Homo sapiens: one gene and its partners. The protein of the gene in region 6 purifies or fractionates together with the protein of the main gene of each other region. This does not show direct contact. Each region holds a gene or a part of one and is shown on either strand. Other genes may lie near its edges. The genes, in order: HPN, TEAD4, MAGEA10, LRP1, SACS, USP3 and REST.

Evidence for each region.
Region 1: the proteins of USP3 (region 6) and HPN purify together in Homo sapiens (co-immunoprecipitation; one large-scale study listed by IntAct). This does not show direct contact.
Region 2: the proteins of USP3 (region 6) and TEAD4 purify together in Homo sapiens (affinity purification with western blotting, with the first as the bait; one study listed by BioGRID). This does not show direct contact.
Region 3: the proteins of USP3 (region 6) and MAGEA10 purify together in Homo sapiens (co-immunoprecipitation; one large-scale study listed by IntAct). This does not show direct contact.
Region 4: the proteins of USP3 (region 6) and LRP1 purify together in Homo sapiens (affinity purification with mass spectrometry; one large-scale study listed by BioGRID and IntAct). This does not show direct contact.
Region 5: the proteins of USP3 (region 6) and SACS purify together in Homo sapiens (affinity purification with mass spectrometry; one large-scale study listed by BioGRID and IntAct). This does not show direct contact.
Region 7: the proteins of USP3 (region 6) and REST purify together in Homo sapiens (affinity purification with western blotting; one study listed by BioGRID). This does not show direct contact.

The regions. Positions count from the first base shown.
Region 1 is NC_000019.10:35,058,721-35,062,220, reverse strand, and holds part of HPN (serine protease hepsin precursor), read right to left. Parts: intron 3,163-3,500; exon of another isoform or gene 2,549-3,162; coding exon 2,419-2,548; intron 2,348-2,418; coding exon 2,225-2,347; intron 2,093-2,224; coding exon 2,052-2,092; intron 1,875-2,051; coding exon 1,709-1,874; intron 1,595-1,708; coding exon 1,404-1,594; intron 1-1,403. UniProt on the Homo sapiens protein: Serine protease that cleaves extracellular substrates, and contributes to the proteolytic processing of growth factors, such as HGF and MST1/HGFL. Plays a role in cell growth and maintenance of cell morphology.
Region 2 is NC_000012.12:2,993,897-2,997,396, reverse strand, and holds part of TEAD4 (transcriptional enhancer factor TEF-3), read right to left. Parts: intron 2,660-3,500; 5' UTR 2,631-2,659; coding exon 2,405-2,630; intron 1-2,404. UniProt on the Homo sapiens protein: Transcription factor which plays a key role in the Hippo signaling pathway, a pathway involved in organ size control and tumor suppression by restricting proliferation and promoting apoptosis.
Region 3 is NC_000023.11:152,132,810-152,135,577, forward strand, and holds the end of MAGEA10 (melanoma-associated antigen 10), read right to left. Parts: coding exon 1,702-2,768; 3' UTR 501-1,701; downstream 1-500. UniProt on the Homo sapiens protein: Not known, though may play a role in embryonal development and tumor transformation or aspects of tumor progression.
Region 4 is NC_000012.12:57,211,172-57,213,861, reverse strand, and holds the end of LRP1 (prolow-density lipoprotein receptor-related protein 1 preproprotein), read right to left. Parts: intron 2,687-2,690; coding exon 2,512-2,686; intron 2,376-2,511; coding exon 2,274-2,375; intron 2,113-2,273; coding exon 2,048-2,112; intron 1,936-2,047; coding exon 1,845-1,935; intron 1,746-1,844; coding exon 1,601-1,745; intron 1,448-1,600; coding exon 1,307-1,447; 3' UTR 501-1,306; downstream 1-500. UniProt on the Homo sapiens protein: Endocytic receptor involved in endocytosis and in phagocytosis of apoptotic cells. Required for early embryonic development. Involved in cellular lipid homeostasis.
Region 5 is NC_000013.11:23,430,903-23,434,877, forward strand, and holds the start of SACS (sacsin), read right to left. Parts: upstream 2,801-3,975; 5' UTR 2,713-2,800; exon of another isoform or gene 2,492-2,712; intron 1-2,491. UniProt on the Homo sapiens protein: Co-chaperone which acts as a regulator of the Hsp70 chaperone machinery and may be involved in the processing of other ataxia-linked proteins.
Region 6 is NC_000015.10:63,588,093-63,591,592, reverse strand, and holds part of USP3 (ubiquitin carboxyl-terminal hydrolase 3), read right to left. Parts: exon of another isoform or gene 3,289-3,500; coding exon 3,170-3,288; exon of another isoform or gene 2,892-3,169; coding exon 2,778-2,891; exon of another isoform or gene 2,650-2,777; coding exon 2,582-2,649; exon of another isoform or gene 2,493-2,581; intron 933-2,492; coding exon 767-932; 3' UTR 1-766. UniProt on the Homo sapiens protein: Deubiquitinase that plays a role in several cellular processes including transcriptional regulation, cell cycle progression or innate immunity.
Region 7 is NC_000004.12:56,934,122-56,936,344, reverse strand, and holds the end of REST (RE1-silencing transcription factor), read right to left. Parts: 3' UTR 501-2,223; downstream 1-500. UniProt on the Homo sapiens protein: Transcriptional repressor which binds neuron-restrictive silencer element (NRSE) and represses neuronal gene transcription in non-neuronal cells.

The DNA of each region.
Region 1 (3,500 bases), on a different chromosome or scaffold from region 6:
CAATCTCCCATCCCCACCTCCCACCCTGCCACCATCAATCAACTTTCTATCTCTACCGATGTGCCTATTCTAGACATTTCTTTTCTTTCTTTCCTTTTCTTTTCTTCTTTTCTTCCTTCCTTCCTTTCTTTTCTTTCTCTTTCTTTCTTTCTTCTTTTTTTAACAGACAAGGTTTTGCTCTGTTACCCAGGCTGGAGTACAGTGGCACAATCCTAGCCCACTGCAGCCTCAAACTCCTGGGCTCAAGTGATCCTCCTGCCTTAGCCTCCTGAGTAACTGGAACTACAGGTATCCGTCACCACACCTAGCTCATTTTTTTAAGTGATGGGGTCTTGCTATGTTGCCCAGGCTGGTCTTAAACTCCTGAGCACAAACAATCCTCCCATCTCAGCTGCCCAGAGTGCCAGGATTACAGGCGTGAGCCACCGTGCCCAGCCTTGTACATTTCATACAAGTGGCATCCTACAGTATGTGGCCTTTGCGGCTGGCTTGTCTCATTCAGCACTGTTCTCAAGTTTCATCCTTGTGGTAGCATGAATCAGTACCTCATTCATTTCTATGGTCCAATATTCTCCCGTTGTGTGGATATACCACATTTTTTTTGTTATTTATTTATTTATTTTCAAGATGACAGAGCCTTGCTCTGTCAGCCAGGCTGGAGTGCAGTGGTGTGATCTCGGCTCACTGCAATCTCCACCTCCCGGGTTCAAGAGATTCTCCTGCCTCATCCTCCCGAGTAGCTGGGATTACAGGCGTGTGCCACCACGCCAGGCTAATTTTTGTATTTTTAGTAGAGATGGAGTTTCACCATGTTGGCCAGGCTAATTTTTGTATTTTTAGTAGAGATGGAGTTTCACCATGTTGGCCAGGCTAATTTTTGTATTTTTAGTAGAGATGGAGTTTCACCATGTTGGCCAGGCTGGTTTCAAACTCCTGACCTCGTGATCCACCCACCTCGGCCTCCCAAAGTGCTGGGATTACAGGCATGAGCCACCGCGCCCGGTCAATATACCACATTTTCTTTATGCATTTGTCCGATGAAACAGTCTTGGGCTGTTTCCATCTTTGGGCTATTATGAATAATGCTGCTATGAACACTGATGTACGAGTTTTGGTGCAGACACAGTTTCCATTTGTCTTAGGTATATACCTCCTGTCCTGGGAGTGGAAGTGTTGGGTCCAATGGTAACTTTATGTATACTTCTTGGGGAAATGCTGGCAAATTTTCCAAATTGGCTGCACTGATCATTGATAGTTAAGGCCCACTTTGTGCTCCCTCGAGATCATTCCCCTTATTGCCAAGGATGCCTGAGCCATAAGTTGATTGCCTTGTGCCCCTGGTCCCCTCCTCTGTCCTCCTGGCCTCGGGTCCTCAAGCCCCATGGCTCAGCCCTTAGACTTACCTGTGAGGGGCAGGGGACTGGAGAGGTGGACCAGGGCAATATCGTTGCTGTTCTCCTCGCTGTTGGGGTCCCGAAAGGGAAGATAGCCCCCGTGGTAGACCACAGCCTGCACCCCCAGCTGCAGACCGTGGGGAGAGGCCTGGGCCACGGCACCGGCAAACACTCGCCATCGGGACAGGACCCGGTTCCGCCTACCAGGGAAAGGGGTGGAGGGTGGCCACCTGCCTGGGCACAATCCGCCCTCCTCCCCACTGTCTCTCCGCTCCTCTGCCTCCCCATCATCAGCGCCATTGGGGGGCACTCACTCCGGGAAGCAGTGGGCGGCTGTCAGCACCCAGTCCCCGGAGAGCAGGGATCCCCCACAGAGGTGTGCTCCATCATAGCGAAGGCTGACTTGCCACGGCCACCGGCCCAAGCTGGTGTCCCGGCCTCCCACGATGCGGTCCACGGGCAGCTTCCTGCGGCCACAGTCTGTGGGACAAGGGTCAGCAGGGGGCGGCGACAGGGGACTGGAGCCCAGGTCCCCAGAGCCCAGGCTTGGCCCTGCCCTAGGGGGTCTGAAAGTACATGGCCCCATCCTGGGGAGCTTGAGGGGACGTGGCCTCCCCAAGGGCCTAAAGGAGAGGGTTCTGAGTTTTAGGATCTCACCTTGGCAGATGGCGGCCAAGAAACGGCCTCTGGGGCAATCACTGGGAGAGATGGGATTGGAGACACAGAAAGAAAGGAAATAGAGACCAGTTAAGACAGGTGGAAGGAAAACGGGGAGAGGGAGTGCCTTGGGGGTCTGAGGTGTTGCCCCACCTGCCCGCTGCCCTCCTCACCACACGGAGATGACCTCCAGCAGCCTCTGGGTGTGGGGCAGCCTCCCCTCGTCCACACAGAAGAAGCCCGACGTGCCATTGGCGCCCGCCGTTCGCACGTCCAGCTCGGAGTGGGTCAGTGCCCTGGGCGGGGCAGGGGTTAGGCCTGCTCCCCAGCCCCTCCCGGCTCCCACCCCTCCGAGGGCCCCCAGTACCTGAGGAAGCCCATCTCCTCGCAGCTGAGTCCGGCTACCCTGGCGTTGGAGCGCGAGGAGCACAGCAGCCGCCACGTCCCTTCCGTCTTGTCAAAGACCATGAGCCGAGCGTCCGCAGAGCTGACCTGCACTGCAGGGCGACAGGGCCCGGGGCCGCCTGGGTCCCACAGCCAGGCTCCCCACATGCTTCCCCAGCCGGAGCCCCTCCTGGCCTGTGCTCCAGCCATGTGGTGTAGACGTGAACCCCAGCCCATCGGAGGGTTGCAGCCCCCACATCTGCGATTGCATCTGGAATCATGACTCAAGGACTTTTTTTTTTTAAAGACAGGGTCTCGCTCTGTTGCCCAGGCTGGAGTGTAGTGGTGTGATCTTGGCTCACTGTAGCCTTGACCTCCCAGACTCAAGAAATCCTCCTACCTCAACCTCCTGAGTAGCTAGGACCACAGGCGTGCACCACCACACCTGACTAATTTTTTTGTTTGTTTGTTTTGTTTTGTTTTGTTTTGTAGAGACGGGTCTTGCTATGTTGCCCAGGCTGGTCTTGAACTCCTAGGCTCAAGCAATCTTCCTGCCTCTGCCTCCTAAAATGCTGGGATTACAGGTGGGATTACAGAGCACCATGGCACTCTGCCAGACTCAAGGACTCAGGTCGGACCAATCAACAGCAGCCTTGAGGCTGTGGCCGGCCCCTCCGCGAACCAGGGGAACTTCACTCTCCATTAGAAGTCCTAAGTTGGCTGCTCAGGAGCTGCAGGTCTGGAAGGTGACTTGGACATTCGGGAAGAAAAAAAACCATTTAACCAAGTTCCCAAGAGAATCCAGCACTTGAGGCTGGATCTGTTAAGGGTCATGTTCACCCTCTTGAGGGAAAAAGTGAGCTAACGTGGAGGAGAGTCAAGAGATTTCTGATAACATTTTATTTTATTATTGTATTTTTTGTGGAGAAACCGAAGCTCTTTATTAGTATGTTTGTCATTTGTCTTTTTCCATTTGTCTTTGGTCACACCCTTAACTCATATAAAAAGACCTCTCACTTTATACGTACACAGACAGCATATGGAAAATAGAAGAACAAATTTGTT
Region 2 (3,500 bases), on a different chromosome or scaffold from region 6:
CCCCAGGTGCTCCACACACAGCTGTCTCCCCCATGACGCTTCCCCAGGCGCTAAAAGTAAGAAGCAGAACTTCACAAGTAGAGGTGGAAGGGACTTCACAGGAGTTCTGGCCAGTAAATATTTCAGGGGTTAGTTTCCCAGTGTCTTCCTTAAATGTATCCAGGTCACTCTTCTTCATCCCATTCTCCTGTCTGCTAGCTGCAATGTAACTCCTGGAGCTGAAGCAGCTGCTTGGGCCTTAAGGGAACATTCACAATGGAAGGCATGCTCATGAGCCACAAGACGGAAGCATCCTGGGTCCCTGAGAGCTTCATGGAGCAGAGCTGCCACACCTTCCCTGGACTACCTACCCTCCAGACATTTATAGGAGAGAGAAGGAAATTTCCCTTATGTAAGCCACTGTTATTTGGGATCTGTTAAAGACAAATTTTATCTTAACTGCCACAAACACATTCAAGTATTTTATTTAGAAATACAGATGCAAGGCCGGGCATGGTGGCTCACACCTGTAAAATCAGCCGAGCGTGGTGGCGCACGCCTGTAGACCCAACTACTCGGGAGGGTGAAGCAGAAGAATCACTTTAACCCACGGGGCGGAGGCTGCAGTGAGCCGAGATTGCTCCACTGCACTCCAGCCTGGGCGACAGAGCAAGACTCTGTCTCAAAAACAAAAGAAAAGAAAAGAAAAGCTGGGTGCGGTGGCTCACACCTGTAATCCCATCACTTTGGGAGGCCAAGGTGGGCGGATCACCTGAGGTCTGGAGTTCAAGACCAGCCTGACCAACATGGAAAAACCCTGTCTCTACTAAAAATACAAAATTAGCCAGGAGTGGTGGCACGTGCCTGTAATCCAAGCTTACTCGGCAGGCTGAGGTGGGAGAATCGCTTGAACCCGGGAGGCAGAGGTAGCGTTGAGCTGAGATTGCGCCCATTGCACTCTAGCCTGGGCAACAAGAGTGAAACTCCATCTCAAAAAAAAAAAAAGAGAGAGAGAGAAAAGAAAAAGGAAAAAATAAGCAACCATCAGAGCAAGAAGTGGTCAAAGCAGGGAGAGTCTAGAGGGCCGACCCAGAAGTAAGGGCGACCCTGGGGAAGCCGAGCCAAGCAACAATGGTGGGGGTGGCACCAGCGTTGGGTGTGGGGGAGAAATGAATGGAAACCCGTGGGGGTGGGCAGCTGGTCTGGGGCCATCCTGTTGGAAGCCAGGCAGGGGCCCCGTTGTCACTGACTTCAGCCATTTAGAGACCCACTCAGGGCTCTCACTCCTGCCCCAAGACCACTGTTTTGAGCTAGGATTCCTAGAGGACTTTCCAACAGGAACAGAAGCCTTATCTGGGCCTTCCAACAGCCATTCAGTTTTTATTCTTGCTTCATTTTTTTTTTTTTTTTGAAACAGGGCCTCACTCTGGCACCCAGGCAGGAGTGCAACAGTGCACTCATGGCTCAATGCAGCCTTGACCTCTTGGCCTCAAGAGATCTTTCTGCCTCAGCCTCCCCAGTAGCTGGGACTGCAGGCTGGCACCACCAAACCTGGGTAATTTTTTTTATTTTTACTCCAGATGGTGTCTCGCTTTGTTGCCCAGGCTGGTTTCAAACTGCTGGCCTCAAGTGATCCTCCCACCTTGGCCTCCCAAAGTGCTGGAATCACAGGCTTGAGTGAGCCACCATGCCCAGCCCCTGCTTCATTTTTCCAGATGCCCCCTCTTCCATCCAAAAGTCATCGTGGCCCCATGCCAACTGCTTGGTCCTTCCCATGCATCGCTGAACAGTTTCAGCTGTGTTCTGCAACCCCAGCCACTCACAAAGATCAAGCCGTTTCTGGTGACCCTCTGCTGGGTTGGGGGGGGCCTTTCCTAGGGGAGTGGTCTCCAGCACTCTGCCTCTCCTAGGAACTCTCCAGGCTGCCTTGCAGAGCAGGTATCTGTGAGCTCACATTACCCTCACCCCAGATGACAGGCTGGGACTAGACCCGTCTAACCCACACCAGGCACACAGAAGGCTCGGCATCTGTTTGTTGCATGAATGAGTGAGGGAAAGAGGGGATGAGTGAGCATCCTTCACAGCCAAGGTGGGCAGCCTGCTGGTCAGGCACCTGCTGGGGTACAGCTTGTGGGGTGCTCCCCACCTGCTCTGGGGGGATGTTCTACCCCACCCAGATTCGCCTTTTCCAAGATTCCCACTCCCATCTCTGCTCACCGCCAGGGGCCCCACCCTCCACACCCCCTCACAGGCTTCTCCTCAGATGCCCCCATCCCTTGGGAGCCCAGGAGGGAAGAAAGCAGTGTCCACCCGACAAAGCCCCAAGTGGTCATCCCCTTCTGTGGCCCGGCAGGAACCCCAAGGTTCTGGTGTCGGCCCCTTGCCTCAGCCTCAGGTACAGGGCTGAACCCGACGGGCTCCTTACCATACATCTTGCCCTCGTCCGACAGGATGATTTTGCGCCTGCCACAGGGCGGGTAGATGGCGAGGGCCTCCTGGAAACTCTGCTCAATATCCGGGCTCCACACGCCCTCTGCGTCATTGTCGATGGGCTTGTCCAGTGCCTGACTGCCCCCAGAGGCGGTGCTCCCCTCAGGGGAGGTGGGAGAGCTCCACTCGTTGGAGGTAATGGTGCCGGCCGTGCCCTCCAAGGCTCCGCTTGGAGGAGCGCTCGTTGGACCTGTGGGGACAGGAACCACAGCCCCGGTGAGCAGTGGAAGAACTGCGTGGGCCACGGGATGAAGGCACTCCGGGGAGTGCCAGAGCCCGAATCAGTTGCTCAGGAAGCAAAGCGTGAAGTGAAAGATCTGTGAGAATCAGGCCTGGGGTCTTGAACAGGTCCCATCCCCTCTGGAGAGCTCATCTTCCCATCTGTCGAATGAGCACAATGACCTAGGCACTCCCTGGTATCAAGGAACCCAGACAAGGGCTGAAAAGTAGGAGACAAGGATGCAGTGCCGGGGATGCACTGACATTAAATCGACCCTGGGCAAAAAGCATGCAAAATCCTGGGTACTGTTGGTGGGAATGCAAAATGGTACAGGCCGGGCGCTGTGGCTCACGCCTGTAATCCCAGCACTCTGGGAGGCTGAGGCAGGCAGATCACTTGAGGTCAGGAACTCGAGACCAGCCTGGCCAACATGGTGAAACCCCGTTTCTACTAAAAATACAAAAATTAGCCAGGTGTGGTGGCGGGCACCTGTAATCACAGCTACTCGGGAGGCTCAGACAAGGAGAATCGCTTGAATCCGAGAAGCAGAGGTTGCAGTGAGCCGAGATCCCGCCACTACACTCCAGCCTGGGTGACAGAGCAAGACCATATGACCCAATACCTGGGTATATACCCAAACAAACTGAAAGCAGGGTCTCAAAGATATATATGTACACTCATGCTCGCGGCAGCATTATTCACAAGAGTCAAAAGGTAGAAGCAAACCAAGTGTCCATCAATGGATGAATGCATGAACAAAATGTGGTGTATACCTACAGCGAAATAGGAGCTTTAAAAAGGAAGGCAACCG
Region 3 (2,768 bases), on a different chromosome or scaffold from region 6:
ATGGGTATCTATCACCTAGTTATTTTTTTAATTTAATTAGGAGTTCAACTGCACTGAGACAAGAGTGCAGAACACCTTCCATTCCTGCCCCAGGTGGACTCCTCTCTGTTCATCCACCACCCAAAAGGAACTGCTCAGAGCAGTTTTACATCCCAGGATTTGCTCTGTCAACTATGTGAGGCTCTGACCCTGGCACCACCCAGCTTCTTTGGATTCATCTTCACCAGAAGGAACTGCAGTTTCTCAAAGCCCCAAAAGTCCTGGCTCAGAGGATGTACGTGACCACTCTCACCTACAGCCCAATACCCTCACCCCGTCTTACTTTTCTTCTGGGTCTTAGAGGACATCTTGCCACCTTGTTACTTGACTGCAGCCCCTAGACTCTACCACCCTATGGGTAAAGGTGGTTCTGGCTTAACATTTCCACTACAGACCCAGGGCCTTCCACAGACCAGATGCTCAGTGGATGTTTGGGGAAAAAATGCACTAGTGAGCAAAGGTTTCATTTATTACAGTTTAATTTCGACTTAACAAGATCCAGGGATATAACTTTTAATTTTGCAGGATGATAAACTAAAAATAATAAAGAAATAAAAATACTAACACTTAAAATTATTTTCTCTATTTTACTATTTTTTTCATATTTCCAAGAAAATTACTATTCCAATTCCATGTTATTTTATTACAGATTACAAATATGATGGAAGGGTTCCCAATTTGTTTTACAAAATAGCAAAACTGTTTCTTAAACTGGATAAACAGAAACGAACGTGTGACCTTAGATTCTGAAGCTCATAAACATTCTAGTAAAAGTAACAACATTTTAAAATACCAAGAAGAGGCTGGGTGCAGTGGCTCACACCTGTTATCCCAGCACTTTGGGAGGCTGAGGCGGGCAGATTACCTGAGGTCAGGAGTTTGAGACCAGCCTGGCCAACATGGTGAAACCCCATCTCTACTAAAAAATACAAAATTAGCCGGGTATGGTGGTGCACACTTGTAATCCCAGCTACTCAGGAGACTGAGGCAGGAGAATCGCTTGAACCCAGGAGGCGGAAGTTGCAGTGAGCCGAGACTGCACCACTGCACTCCTGCCAGAGCAATAGAGTGAGACTTTGTTAAAAAAAAAAAAAGAAGAAGAAGAAAAAGAAAATAAAATACCAAGAAGAAAAGAAAAGAAGTCCCCAGGTTATCCAAAGAAAACAGTAAGACAAAGATGTTATGCACTGTATTTTCCTCAGCCTCAGCCTGGCCCTCCACCACATACATCATTGATTTCCATTCTCATTTGTTTTCATAAATTAAAAAAAAACAAAAACATAAACAAAAACTGACATGTAATTGTAGATATTTATGAGGTACAATTTGATGTTCTGATTCATGTATATGTAGTATAATGATCAAATCAGGTAGTGTATCCATCACCTCATGCATTTATCATTTCTTTTTGGTGACAATATTGAAAAGCCTTCCTTCTAGCTGTTTTGTAATATACAATATCTTAATGTTAACTATAGTCATCCTACTGTGCAATAGAACACTAGAACTTATTCCTCCTATTTAATTGTAATGTAACTACTGCTCTACTCTCTACTTCCATGATACCAACTTTTTTTTTTTTTTTTTTTAGATTCCACATATGAGTAAAATCATGTGGTATTTGACTTGCCTTTTAAAACACAGTGAAGAATCTGTCTTACTTTATTCAGGGTAGGAGAAGCTACCTGTAGCGCTAGAACTTGCACTGGCCATGGCAGTAGTATCATCTGTGGTGGCAATTCTGTCCTGGGCTCTCTCTTCCTCATCTTTCAAAGCCTCCTCATACCACAGTGGGAAGGATCTTGGATCACTCCCATTTACCTTGGCCAAAAATTTCAGGAGACTCATCTTCCTAATTTCAGCATGAGCCCTTGGACCCCACAGAAACTCATACCGTGCAGGATCACTGCCAGGCACCTGCCGGTACTCCAGGTAGTTTTCCTGCACCCAATCTTGGGTGAGCAGCTTCCTGGGCTCCCCATAAATGAGGTGCTCCATCCCATCATACAGCCCCATCATATTCAGTGCTTCCCAGATGACCTCCTCAGGGGTGCAGTAGCCCTCTATGAAGACTATGCTTAGGATAAGTATGAGAATGCCAGTCTTGGGCATGCTCTGGACATCACTCAGCATCCCATCATAGGTGAGGCCCAGGGAGGTGACAAGGACAAAGGAGTGGCCAGTGGGATCCACTTCCTTTACATCAATGCCAAAGACCAGCAGCATGCACTCGGAGGCTTCACTAAACAACAAAGGGAAGTGGTCTTCATAATTTCTTATGACACTCTCCAGTATTTCTGCCTTTGTGATCGGCTCCTTCATTTGATACTTGAAGAGCAGAAACTGCACCAAATCAGTCACCTTTTCATCTATCTCACTTCTGGGTAAAGACTCACTGTCTGGCAGGACCTGTAGGGTGCTTGGACTCTCCTCCTTTTGGCTGCTGGAGCCCTCATCAGATTGATCTAATGGAAGGGAAGCAACGACCGAGGGGGAGGAGCAGGCTATCTGAGCACTCTGGGGAGGATTTGGTGTCTCATCATCAGCAGAAACCTCCTCTGGGGTGCTTGGTATTAGAGGATAGCAGGAGGAGGAGGAGGAAGAGGAGGAGGAGGGAAAAGAGGATGGAAAAGAGGAGCTGGTGGAAGTGGATGATGAAGCATCCTCCTCCACAGCCAGGGGAGCCTGTGCACCCTCGAGGCCCTGTGTCTCACTTTGGGATTGAAGAT
Region 4 (2,690 bases), on a different chromosome or scaffold from region 6:
TCCACAAAGTGAGACGTCAGTGCTTCAAGAGCAGACTCAGGCAGAGAGAACCGCATGGGAGGACCCTGAAGGATGAGAAAACCTTTGCAGCCTCAGTGTATTCACTTCTTATAGTGGGGCTTCTCACTGTGGGTGATCATTTTGGGTAGGGGGGTGGTGTCTGGTAGAAGTGAATGCAGAGAAACAGATCTGAGTTAGTGTCCTAGACCCAGAGGGAACACAAAATCTGGAGACTCGAAGTCATGGCTGAAGGTCACACAGCCAGGAGAAGCAGATCTTCCATGTCAAGTCCAGTGCCACCCGCTTCCCGGGCACAGTAAGATGGAGAGGGGGAGGGCCCTGGGAGAAGGGCACTAAAAACCACGCGCCAGCCTGCCTCCAGCACGGGGCAGGTCTCCCTCTGGTGGCCGAAGCAGGAAAGCGCAGCCCCAGCTCCCAGCGTCTCTCACACACAGGCAGACACCAGCGGCTTTTTTTCTTTCTTTTTTTTTTTTTTGGCCTTTTTTTTTTTTTTTTTTTTTACAATTTTATTTATAACAATATCTGTGTTATTTAGTTGTAAAGGAATTCAGCAAAAATTATTAAAACGTTCACGTCCCCAAAACGGGGCTGCCCGCTTTCCCTTCCTGGGTGTGGCCCACCTCCTTGGCGTCCCCAGGGGAGGGGAGGCTGGAGGAATGTTTACCAGAGGAAGTCTCCAGCCCTGGGAACCTCGGTGGGGGCCCTGGAGACAGGGAGGGCCTGTCTGGGAGGGGGGTTGAGCATGGCCATCTCATAGGTGCCCCTGGAGTTGGGGCTGGGGTTTGGGGTGGCCTCCCCCAAGAACTAAAACACTCCATCCTTTCCCGCCTACCTCACCCAGAGCCACGTCTTCCAGACAGGGGCAGCAAAGAACTCTCCCTTCCCAGAATTAGCCCTCAGGAAGCTGTGGGAGCGGGCAAGCAGGGATGGGGCGAGAGGGGAGAGCCTTGGCAAAGTGTCTTATACAGGGAGGGGAAGGCTGCACCACCAGCTCTCCCAGTGGGGTGCGTTCTGGTGGGAGGGTAGGAGGTGCAGCCCCAAGCCCTCCCTGCCTGTCTCCCTGAAGGCAGCATGGGGGTGCCAAGGAGCAGGCAGGGAGGGGATGGAGAAATAATACTGTGCTCGCTTGCCGGCTTGCTCGCTCACATATAAAATGTAATTCCTTCATTTTTACATTTATACATCCGGCGGGGCCAGGGAAGGGCTGGCTGGGGAGGGGCTCACTGAAGGACTTCACTGGCAGGGGGCAGGAGGCTTTCTGGGGGCAGTCCGACGGGGCAGGGCCCTATGCCAAGGGGTCCCCTATCTCGTCCTCAGGGCCCCGGCCCAGGAGTTCTCGCTTCTCGTCCGTGCTGGCCAGGGAGTGGCGACTGCCATGGCCCCCCATGTAGAGTGTGGCATACACGGGGTTGGTGAAGTTGGTGGGCTGCAGGGTGACAGAGGGTTCAGGTAGGGCTCAGGAGCTGGGCCTGTAGCCCAGGTTACCCCACCCCCACCTCCGTCCCTCACCTAACCCAACACCTTTGGTTAGGCCACCCACGGCCTCTTGGCACTCGACCCTGCCCGCCTCCCAGCCCACCTTGTCAGGGTCCAGGGCAAAGTCAGCGTCCAGTAGGCCTCCCACATCATCAGGCTCTCCGCCTTCGTACATCTTGTAGGTGGGGTTTCCAATCTCCACGTTCATGGCCCCGTTGGTCATCCGTTGGTGCTGGAAGCCCTTAGCCCTGGGGAAAGGCAGGAGTATAAGGAGACAGAGATTATTGGGGGGGAAGGCTAGGATGGCAAAATAATGACCAGAATGTTCCAGAATCCCTGTGACTCACCCTTGGACTCGCCGCTTATACCAGAATACCACTCCGGCCACCAGAACCAGCAGCAGCAGCAACAGCAGAGGGATTAGGATGGAGGCTATATCTGGAGGGAAGAGGTGGGACACTGAGTCACCAAGGCTCAGGGAAGCAGGAGGCACACGGTCCCCCTGCTCTAGGTCCCGGTGGCCCTGCCTGCCCCAACCCCTGCCACCTACGTCCTGGCTGCTGCTGGCTGAAGACGTGCTCCTCACACCGGGGCCCTGTCATGTGGGGTGGGCACCTGCAGAAAGGAGGGACACGGCTGAGTAGGTATAACCTCCATAGCCACTGCTGCCAGGAAAACAGGGCGGGGGGTGGGCACTGAGGCCTGACGGTCCTCCTGCTCAAATCTGGGGAAGGGAGCGATGATCTATGCCTGGGTGAAGCCCGGGCCCAACTCACTGGCACTCAGGCATCATTTTGCTGTTCATGGTACAGGAGCCGCCATTGCTGCAGTGGCCGACGCAGGTCAGACAGCTGGGGGCCACCCGGCCATCCGTGCAGCTGCAGGAAGGAATCAGAGGCTGGGGCTGGGGCTGGCAGAGGCGTGCCTGGGATGCTGAGGAAGGGAGGGGCAGGGCAGGGCTAGGACAGGGCAGGGGCCCAGCTGGGTGGAACTGTGGAGGAGGGCCCCACTCACTTGCAGGTGACATCCCCACTCTGCTTGTTGACCACACAGGCCCCTTCGAGACAGCGGCTGCACTTGTTCACCTCACACCTCGATCCCTCAAAGTAGGCAGTGCAGCGGCATTGTCGGGAGCCATCAGCAGCCATCTGGCATGTGCCAAAGTTCTCACAGTAGCCAGAGCACTGCCCTGT
Region 5 (3,975 bases), on a different chromosome or scaffold from region 6:
CGTCGTCAATTTGAAGTGCCTTGAGGGGGATACCATGGTAGGAACAGAGCTCAGAGTTCAGTCTGAGAACTCAGTGATGCTCCCCAAGGGAATCGAGTCTTACCATCTAGTCAGTCTCTCCTTTTACTAATAAGAAATACTTGGGGTTCTACTCTCTCTTAAGGTTGCATTTTGTAATCTGCAAAATGGGGCTGCCTGTTTCATAAGGCTATTGTAAGAATCAATGAGATAAAAGCATTTAATTTGATCAAATAATTGTTGTAAACTGAGGCTACCCCAAAGAGAGCTATCTGAATCATCTAGTCAGAACCTGAAGGAAATTGAAAGATTATTCTATGTCTCTTGCCTTAGAGATGGCGTTAAAAGGCTTTCTAATTAGCACAAAGAGAAGTCAAAGCAGGGCTGGAGCCACACCCTTTGGTCCCCAATCCAGTGCTTTTCCCAACTTCGCTATGTTCCCCCTTAGGTAGGGGTGAAACGGCCTCTCCTAGACGTTAAAATCTTACACAATATCCTGAGTGTGAGTTAAGGAAAGGAAAGACGGCAGGAGAAAGACACATAAAGTAGAAATTAAAATAGTAACAGGATTGTCATTGCAAAGAGCAAATTGCCACCCAGGCTGTCCAAGATCAGAATAGCAATGGGAATTGTCCTGACTTCCAATTTGGCATCCTCTGCATCAATCACATTTAGTAGTCCTCATGTAGGCTCATGGTGGGAGTGGTCAATATCATCATCACTGCTGCTGTCTTAAAGGATTTAGGAAGAGTTGTACAAAGAGAATCGGCCTTCCTTCTTCCAAAGAATACTCCTATGGCAACATGGAAACATCAGCGTTCCTTTTATAGACAAGAGGGCTTAGAACAGTGTTTCGTGCATAGCAAGAACTGAATATGTATTTTGTACTGATCAGGACTCATTCAGATGCACTCAGCCAAAAGTTCATTTCAAAATTTATTCCTTTTGGGAAATGGTGCATGAACCACTTTAGCATGCTTCACCATGGTGGTTAGGTAGATGGTGGACTGAGTGAGAAAACGACAAAACTCTTACTAAATAGTGACACTGTGTGAAGAACCCTGCTAGGCGCCTTCATACAAATCACCTGGTTTCAACCCTGTGACCATTAAGTGAATAATTGTGTCATCTCTGACACAGGAGGGAACTGAGGCTCACAGAAGTTATGTGGATTGTCAGGGGCTGCAGAGTAAGGATGTGGTAGACCTGAGATTGGAACCCGGGGCTTCTGGGGGCAAGTCCTGCGTAAAGCAATGGTTTTGAGATGCTTCAGATGTAAGCAAACCTTGGTCTTCAAGTTCTATAATTGGACTTTTCTTCCTATTATGTGAAGAATAGAAAACACTTAATCGTGGAAAAGTTCTTATAAACCAAGTAAGATTAAAGGAAAATAGGGTATGTAGAAAATCTGGCTTGCTTTGTTTGAAAGGGAGACTGAAGGAGTCTTTAAGATCCAAGGAGAAAAGAAAGAAAAAATTGCCCAAACAGCCCAGGAAGGAGAAGAAAGGATGAAAGGGACGGCTAAGGAGGATAGAGGAAAGGAAACTGGGGATCGTTGTCACAGCCCAAAGTGAGGCTTCAGGGCAAGATTAGGGAAGGCAGTCTGGATGGTCATAAGTAAAACTACTGGGACATCATGACCCTGCATTAACGTAGAATGAGTCTGGTTATCAATGGGCAGCTTAAGAAAAACAGAATGGCAAATCTACTTGTCATGTGACAAATAAAATGGGATTGTCAATTATTTATTATTATTATTATTATTTTCATCCATGACCTGTGAATCAATTACTTTTATCTGCACTGATGGAGAAATGAAGAGTTCCCCTTCAAAATAACTTCAGAGCAGCTTGCGCTTGGGAAGCACGTGGATTCAACCTGGCTTCTGCCTTTTACTTAAGCGGAATGGGCTTTATCCATCTTCAGGGGCAGAGAGAATTAAGATTAAAGCCAAAACAATTGATATGTTTTAATAGAAACAAATCCAGTCCTCTTCTCTGAGGTATTGACCTCGTTTTAAGGAAGAAAAAAAGACAGCGAGAGAGAGGTTTTGTTGCTAAAGCTGGAATACTCTTTCAAAGAATCTAATGATCGCTTATTAGAATAAAATTAAATATGTGAAATATTTTTTAACTAAAAGCAGGATTTTCAAATATTATATAAGATAACCATAACATATGGCATTGTTTGAAGGCATGCTGTTTAAAGTGAGAGCAATTCTGCAAATTAACCGTAAGCTACTTTGAGAATCCCATCTTATTGTTCAATAAGACTCTGGACCCCACGCTGTGTTACTGCAACAGCTCCATTGTGGCGGTGCCTGGCAACCCGGGTGGAAATTAAAATGACAAAGCGGCTAGTCCAGCATCTTGACCGCGGCAGATCTCTCTAGTCACCCTGCAGCCGCTCCTCACCCACAAATTCACAAGCAGCCAACCCAAACTGTACATTTTCAGAAGAGCTCATTACTCACAGCTGTACAGCACGCTGAAGGCCCTCTCGTCTCTGTCCTCTCCGAAGGCGGGTATGTTAAAGGAAAGTGGCCCCTTACCTCCCCCAAGCAGCTGCAGTGGCCGAGCCCTGGTTTCCCAAGGCTCAGGGGACGGATGGCCAACAACACCATGGAGCCTGCCCGTCCCCAGGCCGCTCCTGCAGCTGCCCTCGCTGGCCACCCAGCTGGAACCTTGGACTTACTGGGGGCTGTGGGCATCAGGGTCTCTCGGCCTTTGTTTTCCTCCAGTGCCATCAGCAGTTCCCAGCGTGACTGTCCCGCAGCCGCACTGGGTCCAGGCGGCTCCTGCCGCAGTCAGTCGCTCCCCCTACCCAGCAGCCTTTTTTTTTCTTCTTAAAGAGACAGGACTGTCATCAACCTTAGGTGTCAATAATGCTGCAAGTGCAGCATTGTCGTTCATTGTGGGGGTGACAACCAACCACACGTTTTTGTTCTCTTCACTTGCAAAGGCTAATTTTTAGCAGTAGGTATGGCTAACAGAAGACTGGCTCTATTAAACACCAGTTGTGTGACCTTAGACAAGTCACTCATGGGTCTCGAGTACCTCATGGGAAATGAAGACCTGTGACCTGGTAATGTTGTAGCTCACAATCTGCTTTTTGTATGTTATTTGGAGTTGTTTATGAGGTTCCAATGGTTAAAAAAAAAAGCATTCACTCAAAATGTGTGGTAAACTGTGAAATGCTATACAATTGATCCTGTTCTAAGTTGAAATTGCTAGTCTCAATTTAATAATACAAAATATTGTAACTCTATTTTCTTGCTTCCTCTGATGGGGTATGTGAAATACCACCAGCATTTATTTCATTTCGGCGCACAGCTATCCTGCCACTGGCCTGGGTACATCATATTCCTCATGATAGTCTCCTAGTAGAACTGCCTGCTTTATCCATATAAATCTAGAATTTTGGCTTATCTGGAAATACTGGATCTCGGAAGCTTCTTATTGCTTCGTTCCTGCGGAAAATTCCTCTTAAGTCAGTTCAAACAACTCCAGACCTGAAAAGGCTCAAATGATCTCTCCTGGGAGAAGACCAAAGCAAGCCCCAAATGTCAGCAGCAACTGGGGAAGGAGAGCCCCTGCTTCTTGTACCTGGCCCTGCACTGGTCTGACCCAGAAGATGCCACATCTAATGGTGTCTCCTTCACATCCTAGACTCACAGATTTGTGTACATATTATTTCCTGGGAGATAGGTGGGAGACCTGTTCTAACAAAAGGACTGAATAATCACAAACAAAGCACATTTCTATTGGGGAGAAATGGTGTCTTGCAGGGCCTTTTCATTGAGCTCTCACTGTAGCACCGTGTGGACCAACAGGCCCTCGGTGGCATGCGCCTGTGGAGTGAGGCTGCCTCTCTGAGGCTACCACCATTCTTACATGGTTCAGTTGTAATCAGTTTAATTCAGCACACAAATATTGAGCCCTTGCTTGTTCCTGGCAT
Region 6 (3,500 bases):
ACCTATACCATGTCAGTGAGTCACAGCATTTTTTTTAAACATTACATGTATTTGGTCTTTACTCCCATCTTACCTCCCCGCAAACAAGTATGCCCCAAAACCAAAAAAACCAACAAAGAGAGTAATTCTTGTATTTGCAGGACAAGTACAACTGAACCAACAAATTTATTTAGTTAGTGCTGATAAAGACAGCAGCCTTGAGAGACAAGCAGTAATTACCTGGTCTACTTAATGATGCCCTTTGTTATATTTTACAGGCAAAAAGAATGATTCCTCAGCAGTCATTGTGAAATTTTGTGGGCCACAAGTATTGTGCACACATGATCCTTGATTTAGAGTCAACCTGATGTCCATTATAGCTGTGGAAAGGCAGCAGGCAGTTGTGTCGCTCTTCACAATAAGGAACACATCTTGCTTTCAGCATGTGAGAGGAACAAAAGCATTGATGTAAATGTGCCTCAAAGTGAGAACTGAAAACATTAACATAAAATAAAAAAGTCAAATAAGACTAAGTTCTTACAACTACCTATAAAAATTGAATTATTACAACTAAAGCAGCAAATCAAAACATCTGCTGAGGTTTTCTGGTAGAACAACAACAAAATTAGTTGGTGCCCATGTTCAGTAAGTCACTACCATTGACAAAACTAAATCCAAAATAGGAAATTGAAAAGTGCATAATGAAATTAAATCTTGTATCAAGTATTTGTGGAAAACTGGAAATGTTTCTCTGGTATGGTTGGTGAATGATGATTTGGAGGAGGTATTAAAGTTTATCCGATCCAGCTTTGGCCTGGTGTTCCACGTAGAAAAGGATGTAGGCCTTCGCCTTCACCACAGTCTCCTCGTCAGTCAGTGTTACAGTACTGTCATTGAAGTGGAACCAGCGGCCTTCGTGAGTTGCGTATGCTGTGTAATGTCCAGAACCAACCCTGTAAAGGCAAAAGACCAAAGGAAAAAAGAACCTCAGAAATCACAAAAAGACCTGTACAACTATATAATGTTAGATTTAAATTTTAATAAGAATACATCCTAGACTTTTGATTTAAGATGCTTGTTAAATTAATGTTTTTACCTTCCTCCAAACTGACCAGAAATCGAGGGTTTGCTAGAACACAAAGCAGATGGCCCTGGACTAATGGAGAAAACAGAGATGAGGAACTCGCAACCTAACAAGCACAGGTCAAAGCCTACGGAAACATGGAAAACTAGGTACCAGGTTTTCCCATCAGAATCTTAGGAAAAAACTAAGCTTAACAAAGAAGGGCACCCTTCCCTGACACCGTGGTCATCAGGGGCTCTACCCTATCAGCATGACCCACCCACTCACACACACAACCCTGGAGTCAGTCCTCCAAGTCAGACGGAAGGCCTGCAGCTAGAACAGACCTTTGTAGGTGCCAGGAAAACCCTATTTAAATAATAAAGATCCATCTCATCATTTACTATGATTCCAAATAAACCACCAAAACCAAATTTTAAAAACAAGCCTTTTGCACGCCTACAAAATCACATTTTTGAGGGGAAAGAAATACCGGGAAGAACAAGCAAGGCAATCAACCCTGAGGAATTGAATGCAGAAAACCTAAGAGAACTTTACATTTTTAAATTAGTGCTAATAGTTTCAAAAAGATAGTGCAATCATAAAACAAGAATAGGCTGTTACGAAAAAGTTGTCAGAAAAATGTGACTGATTTAATATAAATATTTTATGGAGGAGCTTATCTTTTATTTGGATACAGATGAAACCCAAATTGGTGATTTGGAAAAGTAGGCCATGGCAGTCTTTAGAAACACAGACAGAAATCATTAGAGTATTTAAGACATGTGGAAGGGAGATCCAGGAAATTCACTATGCATATAATAGGGGTACAGAGAACAAATGATTTCAGACCTACAGTATAGAGAGTTTCATGAGCTGAAGGCACCAAATTAAAAGTGTCCCTACCAACTACCAAGCAGGAATACACTCCAAGGAGAAAAAAGCCAGGTGCCTGTAAAGTAGTGAGAATCAGACTTGTCATTCATAACACTATGTGAGTGTAGACGTTACTTTATCACAGCTCTGCGGGAAAAGGATTTTCAACATGGATAGTCGTCTGCCCACATATAGTAGTCTTAAGTTTGAAGGTAAAATAGCCACTCTCAAACCAAAAACCAGAAGGTTAGACCCCTCATACAAACTTTCAGGGGAAAAAATTAATGTTTTTTAACAAGACTTAAAATGAGTCTTTAAAGTAGATGATATGGAGTAAGTTATTCCAAGTAATTTCCCCTTTTGCCCCATTTAAATTTCAGTTGGTAAACGAATAAGCAACTTTGGAGTTTGTGGACAAATAAAGACTGGGTCGTAAATACTGGGTTCAAATGAACCATTCTTCATTTCACTTTTATTTACCTTCCCTTAAGCCTTCACAACATCATCTGAGGAGTACTCTTCCGCACCAAAACTGAAGGAAATTTCACCTACTTTATCTGAATCCATTTTTTAGGAAGAACTAGCAAGAGTGGTACAAAACTGCAGGTCATTGGGCTGGCCACCAGGTATTCCCACCCACCAGAAGCTGGCTGTTGTACTCACCCGGAACCATGGTGCACCACCACAGCGGCGAGGTCATACAGGCAGCTCTCCGGGCCACTGTTCTCAGGCTACAGAACAAGGAAGAAGGAGCAGTGGTCAATGACATCAGTATCTCGATGACCTCTACCCTCTCCATGTGATGACAATCTTACTGAAGAGCCATTTTTTCACCATGCTAAAAAGGTAACCACCTTACCTCTAGTAAGTAGCATTTCATGTCTAGGCCTCTCAGTGGAAATTCTACGTATGTATCAACTTTATTTCTTAAATATGCTGTCCAATGAAATCTTTTCAAATGTAAGCATAGCACCTGGAGGACAGAGATGCGGTCAAAGATTGTGAACACCTAATTTACCTTTCAGTCAAAGTTTGATACTACTATCAGTTCAGTAAATAACATTTTAGCTGCCCTATCAATCATTCTTCCATGCATACCTTATGCATTCATTCTGTAAGGGGTTTAGCTTTTACTGAAAATCCTAGAGAAAAATACAGAACAGTTCACATAGTGTAAAGTTATAGACATGGTCTTAGCAGTCAAGCACTTTCCCATTGAAATTGCTTCATAACTCAAAATTCAACACTCACCTTGGGTAGTTTTTGAATCCAAAACTTTTTTGTGGACTTTTGTTTCTTTTTGCATTTATGGCACATATATAACTCTGTCTCATCAAGTTCTTCTAAGTCGGTAAAACTGCGAAGACAATCTAAACAAATTGATTTTGGCAGCATTAAAACAAGATGCCTTTTGTAGAGGCAATGTACTGTAGAAAAAAGACCCAGGTTTAAAATCTCAGCTTTATTAGCTATACGACCTTAGAAAAGTTAACCTTTCTCAATTGCAAACTGGAGACAAAAAATAATACCTACTTTGAAGAACTATTATAAGGAAGAGAAATAATGTGTAGAGCACCTGGCA
Region 7 (2,223 bases), on a different chromosome or scaffold from region 6:
TCTCCCGCACCTCCCATCAAGCAGTGTATGCTTTGGGTTACTACCCATACTGGACTGTTACCTCAGACAACATGCTGTGACTTTTCTACCTGTGATACTTTTTTTTTTTTTTTTTTTAAAGACAGAGTCTCACACTCTCGCCTGGGCTGAAGTGCAATGGCACGATCTCGGCTCACTGCAACCTCCACCTCCTGTGTTCAAGCGATTCTCTTGCCTCAGCCTCCCGAGTAGCTGGGATTACAGGCGCCTGCCACCACACGCAGCTAATTTTTGTATTTTTAGTAGAGACGTGGTTTCACTATGTCGGCCAGGCTGGCCTTGAAATCCTGACCTCATGATCCACCTGCCTCAGCCTCCCAAAGTGCTGGGATTACAGGCGTGAGCCACTGCGCCCAGCCTGAGAAATAATCTTCAAAAGCCTATTAATACACTTGCAGTTCCAGCAACATAAATTTGGCTTTCCTACATTCTGGATATACCAATAATAAACAAAGGCATCATGGTTTTTAAAACTTTATTTCAACATAACTATGCTTACAGAAATACACTCATATTGGTTAATAGAATGCAATTTAAGTTTAACTTATCCTACATAATTTGGACCAAAAACTTGGTACATGGTTTAGGATTTTAAAAAAGGATTTGCAATCTGGTTTATTTTTATCTATTACAAATGTATAAAAGATCTTCCATCAAATGCTGCTAAAGAAGGCAGCAAGAACCTTGAGAAATTTACCTTTGGTTTGCCTCAGAAAAGTAACACGTATTGCACTGCTTAAGTTTATAAAATTGGTGCAACAAAACATTGTTGTAATGTTTCAATGCCAGTTTAGAAAGTTCAATAACTAATGGATATGGAAGGGACCGGGAGGGAACCTATGTACACATGTGAAACTGTAAAAGCTATCTGATTTAGTTAATATTGCATGTAGATTGTAAATCTACACAAACCAAGATTCAGATAATTTCTTCAATCTGAATTAACACTATCTGTTCACTTCATCTGCTGAGGTCAACCAGGAAACTAGGAACACCAGCTGTAAGTTTTTCTGACTTATGTAAAAAAGAAACTTAACTTTCTTCCTCAGCTTATCAATCCAGAAGTGACAGTATACTACAGGCAAGGTATTCCTTCCATTGTCAACATTCATAGGGTGACATGCAATGAGGTCTACTTGGGTTTTAATTTGTATCAGCACTCATACGCAAAACAGTCTCCAAAGTTAATTACCACATGACTTTAGAAGTGACTCTAAAAAATAAAATGGCCCTTCTTAGAAGACTAGAGCAAAAGATCCAGCCATAGTTATAAGCCTTATTAAAAAAAAAAAAAAATGCAGCCCTTTGTGAATTACACAACTAAAAAAAAAAGTAGCCCCAGAATAAGAAGCAGCTCTGAAAAGAGGAAAAAATATAACTTAAAATATCTTGAAAACCAATGTGAATACAGGTTCAAAAGATAGTTAAGAGATTCATTTTCATAAGACTACCTAAGATTAAGGCTTATAATATATGCTAGTATTTCAAGTTTATCACTAATTACTAAACATCAATTTACAAATAACATGTTCAATTTTTGTTCTTTTATCCAAAGGGAAAATTCTAGGCTAAATTCTATCCAGTGTGGGGGAGGGGGACTAGAAAATAAAAAAGTTTCAAACAGTTCCATGCAAACATCACATTTTTCAAATGGAAAAACTTCCAACTGGACCAGAAGTTCATACTGCTAATGTACTTTTCATTGAAACAATTTTTAGTAAGTACAAATACATGGCATTAAGGTTCAGAACCTAATATAGGCCTGACAATCAAGTCCTTATTTTCTGGAGGAAGGCCTCAAGTCCAATAAATTTCCAGTAACAATGTTTTTACAAATCAATTTAATAATAAGGGGTTTTAATTTCCTTCATGTTTTTGTTTTTAGCATTCTAGTCTTAAGACTAGATTAGAAGTTAGCTCAATTCCCCAAAAGGCAAATGGTTTTTCTTTGCAGTATGAAAGAATCCACAAAAAAACCTCTTCCCCAAACTAATTCCTAATAACCAATCTGTGCTTAAGATGTATCTTTTTCTATACAATGTAAACGGTAACTTAGGTAAAATGTACCCATGAACATTAAAACTAGTCATTAGAAAGACTTAACTAGCTTTATAATTTAAGTTTTAAAACATAAATATTTGCAGCTTGATCTTCTGTTGACAATGATTGTCGGAGCCTAGAATT